Regions from separate parts of the Homo sapiens genome. Here region 2 is linked to region 1. Evidence: fine-mapped expression QTL. Tissue or cell type: whole blood. Region 1 holds a variant in brackets; the other region holds the start of a gene. All regions are shown on one strand. Distances are from middle to middle. Region 1 overlaps SND1 (staphylococcal nuclease and tudor domain containing 1). Region 2 holds the start of LRRC4 (leucine rich repeat containing 4).

The links. PIP is the estimated chance that this variant, and not a neighbour inherited with it, causes the effect.
Region 2: LRRC4 starts here. The variant in region 1 is fine-mapped to the expression of LRRC4 in whole blood (INTERVAL, PIP above 0.99).

Annotation. Positions count from the first base shown.
Region 1 is chr7:127,997,587-128,000,086 of GRCh38, forward strand. The region is part of intron 16 of SND1 (staphylococcal nuclease and tudor domain containing 1); the gene reads left to right. SND1-IT1 (SND1 intronic transcript 1) reads left to right here. Exons shown (of 1, transcript NR_027330.1): 1 at 1-2,491. Among named protein-coding and RNA genes, the nearest start is that of SND1-IT1, 1.3 kb to the left of the region's middle. The variant A/G (reference allele first, on the strand shown) is at 1,083.
Region 2 is chr7:128,029,887-128,032,386 of GRCh38, forward strand. LRRC4 (leucine rich repeat containing 4) reads right to left here and starts at 1,551. Exons shown (of 2, transcript NM_022143.5): 1 at 1,027-1,551; 2 at 1-854. The coding sequence starts at 754. All of the region lies in intron 16 of SND1 (staphylococcal nuclease and tudor domain containing 1), which reads left to right. RefSeq lists a silencer at 1,995-2,114.

The DNA of each region.
Region 1 (2,500 bases):
AAATCTGACTGTGTAGGTGCATTTGTTTAAAAAATATAACTCCCCATTGCCTCTGGGATAAAGTCTTATCTCAGTTTACATATATTCTTGATAACCTCTCCAACTTTATGTCTCACCACCCCCACTCACTTCGTAATTCGTGCCTTATCAGAATGGACCTGTTATACTGGCAGTTCACCATATATACCATTACATTTTGTTTCTCCCATCTCTCAGGTAGACTTACACTTTCGGCCCAGCACATCAGTCATCGCCCTTGCTTGCTTTCCTATTCACTCCTGTTCTGGAAGGTGCACCACCTTTTCTTGGAAGGCTTCCCTTGCTCTCCCAGGCTAGATGAGATGTCCTTCCATCAGTTCCCACAGCACCCTGTGCATGTATCTGTTGTGCACTTACCAATAGTATACAAGGGATCTATGACCCAAGTCTCTCCCCACTAGCTTGTAAGCTCCTCACAGACAGGAACCATGTTTTGTCTTTGTACTCCAGTGCCTAGTATATAAGAGATACTCAATAAATAAATATTTGTCAAATCAACTAATTGATTCCTTGTGACCTAATTCTAGAGAATGGGAAGAAGGCCTGTTATTTTGTTGTCCTTTATGGTTCTTTAGGAAAGCTCTCCAAGCTTGGCATTTGTCAGGGTGGGAGGAAAACTGTTGAAGTATTAAGACTGGACACATGGCTGCTAATTCATCAGCTTATCATTGAAAAAGTCCATAGCCAAAACCTGACTGTGCACTTACTATAGGACCCTGACCTGCCTGGGTCTCCCTGTCTCTCCAGCCAGTATATTTAAAGGTAATGAGATAATGATGAGTGTTTTGAAAAATGTTTAGTGTTCAAATAGAAACCATTCGTGTCCCTTCACTCTCTGAACATAGTCTGCAAATCTCTCCCTCTCTGGTATGTTTCTGTTTTGTGGATTAGACTGCTAAATAAGCGAAGAGTTAATTTTGAAGTTCAGGTCAACAAATTCCTGTTTGGAGACGGGCTGTTCCTGAATACCAGGTTGTTATCTGTCTATTACAGCCCCTTCACTTCTGGGCTCCTGGCCCTTTGCGAAGTACTTCAGAAAGCCT[A/G]GAGAGAAGAGAGGGCCCTCAAATCCCATTCCAGCCCCTAAATGAAAGTGGCATCACAAGGAGAAAAGTGGAGGTAGAAATGTACCATGGGGGACGTTGCCCCATTGCCTTTCTTCCCCTGACTACTGGGCTTCCTCTATCAGCTTTTAACGCCTGGAAGTAGCTGAGTCTCCAGTCACTGGTGGCCTTCCCCAAGTGAGCTCAGCAGCATGTGCTAATAGGTGCCAATACTGTGCTGGCTCCAGTGGGATTCCTCTCTGCAAAGCTGCTGGCTTAGCTTGACTGTTTCCCTATTCCTCTCCTTAGAACTTTCATAGCCAGTCAAGCATAGAATTGCATCCATTCTTCTGAAATAGGTACTGTGCCTAATTTTTCATTGGCTTGGCCAAGATTCTGTTACCTGTAATTATGTCATATGGGCTGACTGGTGTAGGTTTGGTAGGCCTCACTGCTCTCCAGAGGCTAGTGTTCCTATCCCAGGATGGCTGTTGGGATTAGGAGTGGAATGAGGAATAGTTTAGGACCACAAGAGATTTGGCCTCCTTGGAACATGTAGGAAGGCCTCAAGGATGTAATTCTAGCCCAGGGAAGAAAATCCTTTTCAGCAGACGCTTCCCTTCCCTTCCCCTAGGGAATGTGTCCCTACTATAGTAAACTCTTCCTTAAGAGAGTTTTATGTTTTCTCTGTCAGATCAATTTGTTTTTCTTAATGTTGTTCCTATCAAAAAAAAAAAAAAGGAAGAAATACAGTCCTCAGACCTGACAGTTTCATTTTTCCCCCCAAGTAGAAGCAATAGAAACCTTAGCAGTTCCAAGACTCCTGGCACTCACTTTTCCTCTCCATCTTTAGGTCTAACCCAGCTCAGCCCAGAGTAAAGACATAAAAGCCTCACATGTGATTTCCTCTTGCATTTTTTCTGCTAGAAGGGTCCACAGTACTTACTTTATGCCTCATCTCAATTGAAGCTGGATGATGAGGATAGTGGGCAGTGATTGCAATTGGGGAATGCATGTACTGGATCACATAAGGTCATGAAAGTCCTTGAAACAGAGCCTTGCCAAGCAGAACCCTTGCCACTCATGGTATTCGATACAGTCTACCCATCTGACATGAAATGATATTCTTAATGAGCCATTCCTATGGAAGATAGCTATTGCCAGGCACATTCAGTCTCCTGGTCTCCCTCTCATAGCTATGTAGGGCCTATGACCTAGAATAAATGGAAAAATGTTATCAGGAGGAAGAGACTGCTGGACTCCCCTGAGAGGTAGGGTTTGTGCTAGGAGAGCTGGGTGCCATTTATTTCATTTTGATATATCAGGTGCTCCTAGTAACAATTCCTAGTTTCTCTTACCTCTGTAATCATCCTGAATAGTCACTGCTTCTTGAGCTTTGGTGAGTGTTCTCTAAAAAAAAA
Region 2 (2,500 bases), 32 kb after region 1:
AGTTCATGACCCAGAGCTTCTTGAGGGAGCTCAGGCCATGGAAGGAGCCAGGCCTGATCTCAGGGAAGTGGTTCCCTGACATCTCCAGCTCCTCCAGCCCCACCAGGGGGGTGAGATTGGGCATGTCTTTAATGTTGCACATGCCCAAGTTCAGATACTTGAGGTTGAACAGCCCCTCAAAAGCTCCCTCAGAGATATACTCCAGCTTCTTGAGCTCCCCCAAGTCCAGGCGCATGAGGGAGGGCACCCGGTTGAAGGCGTAAGAGGGGATGCTTTCGATGGGGTTGTTGCGAAGCCAGAGCTCCCGCAGCTTGGACAGGTATTCAAAGGCCCCGCTAGGGATGACTGTCAGCCAGTTGTCGAACAGCTCCAGGGTGTTGAGGCTGGCCAGGCCGTTGAAGGCCCCCACCTCAATCTGCCGGATGGAGTTCCTGCCCAACTGCAGGACCTCCAGGTGGTGGAGGTGGCGGAAGGTGTCGGCCTGGATCATCTGGATGTTGTTCTCCATGAGGTTGAGGTACCGGGTGTTCGAGGGAATACCCTGCGGGACCTCGGAGAGGCCCCGGCGCGTGCACACCACCTTGCTGAACTGGTTACTGCACGAGCAGACGGAGGGGCAGTTCTGGGGCCCGGCTGAGGCGGCAGCAGCGATGGCTGCACACAGAATCCACACTTGCGCCGTGAGGTAGACGAACGGGAGCAGGATGGCATTCCAGGTGTGGTGGTGCACAGTTACCTGCCACAAGAGCTTCATGGTGTGGCACGTTCATAATTCACCATCGCCTGGGATTTTGGCTCGGAAAGGAGAACCAGCCCTACCCCGGCTTAAGTGAGCTAGGAGCTCCTCTTTCCATCTGGAGAAGGAGGTGGGGAGGGGGCGATTAGAGAGACGGAGCGGATCGGCCGAAAAAAATCCTGCCAAACTCGAGCGGCCCCTGGTCTCCCAACCCACCCTCAAGGCAAGCCCTCCGAAAGCTACGACTCTCCCACACTGCAACCGTCCCCACCCAGTTCGCCGTCACCTACCTCGGAAGGAAGGCAGGAAAGCACTGGCGTGGTGTCCTTAAGCTTTCTCCACGGGAGCTGGGCACCTCGTTCCCATTCCGACTTCTTAGTTTTAATTAACAAAAGGGGGAAGTGGTGGGGGCGGGGAGGGCAGAGGGGAGGGGAGGGGAGGGGAGGGAAGGGGTGGGGGAGACAAAATGGCCTCTAGTAAATCCGGAGCCGGAGCCGGCGAAGCCGCGGAGTTGAGGCGCGCCTGGGAGAGCCAAGGCCCGGCGGGCTATGCAGGTGCATGCCCCCCCCTCCGCCCAAGGAGCGGCGCCACCAGCGCTTCCCGGCTTTGTCCTTGGACCCTGGCACCGGCTCGCTCCAGCCGCGGGGGAAGGCGCTTCATCGCCAAAGTGCGCTCCGGCGGCCCCGGCCCGCTCTGCGGGCCGCCGCCGGAGGGAGTGCGGGGGCGCCCCGAAGCCGCCCAGGCCGCACTCGCTGGATGCTGCGCTCCCTCTCCCGGCGTCGGCCGCTCCGGGCCGGCGGCAGCTGATTGCGGTCGTGAGCTCGCGGAGCGGCGAGAGTTAAGAGGAGGTGTTCGCGGCGCCTTCGCCCTCCCCAGACACACACCCCCTTTCTCCTCGCCTCTTCTCGGAGGGTGGAAGAGACAAAAACGGGGGGTCAGTTCTCCAGTCCGCCGGCTGCCGGCACGCGGGGCGGCGCTCCGTCCGGCCCCCGAGGACCAGCGGCGTGGCGGCTGCGCTCGGACCCGGTCCGCCGGCCGGAGGAGCGCGCGGCGCCCGCGGTCGCGCCCGCACCGCAGGCCCCTTCAGAGAGTCCGGGGGCGGGCGCGGGTCCGGCGGCGGCGGCGGCCGCAGCCCCCGGCGGCGCGCAACCGCCCGTCGCCGCCCGCCGCTGCCCGGCCCCCGGCGCGCCGCCGGCTCCGGCTTTGTGCGGAGGGAGCGAGTTCGCGGCTTCGGCTCCCGGCGCCCTCAGTGGCCGCGCCGCCAGCGGACTGCTGCAGCGGCGTGAGCAGCGGGGGTCGCGGCTGCGGGAAACGCTCCGGAGCCCAGGAACATAGTCCCCGCTGGCTAGCGGCGGCAGCAGCAGCAGCGGGGCCCCTGCGCGCGGCGCCCACCGTCTCCTCCTCGCGCCGGGCTCGCGGTGTTGCAGGCGGCAGCCACGCAGACTGCTCTCTCATCCTTTTGTCCTTCAGTCAGAACGTGAATGTACTGCTGACGCATACTGTTCTGGGAGAAGATTAGCGTGATGCAGTGCTCTTATGTATTAGCGCCGCTCCCCCTCCGTCGCCTGCCTCGCGGGGTTAACGCCGGCGCCTTCCAGCGCCGCGCCGGCCGGCGCCGCGCAGCCCCGCGCCTCCGGCCGCCCGTCTTCCTCTTTCCTCCTTCCTTCCTCCTCTCTTCCTCTCTCCCCCTCCCCCCTCCCCCCTCCCCGGGCCGCTTCCTCCCCGCCCCCTCTAGACGAGCGGAGCGGGGCCAGGGCGAGCGGG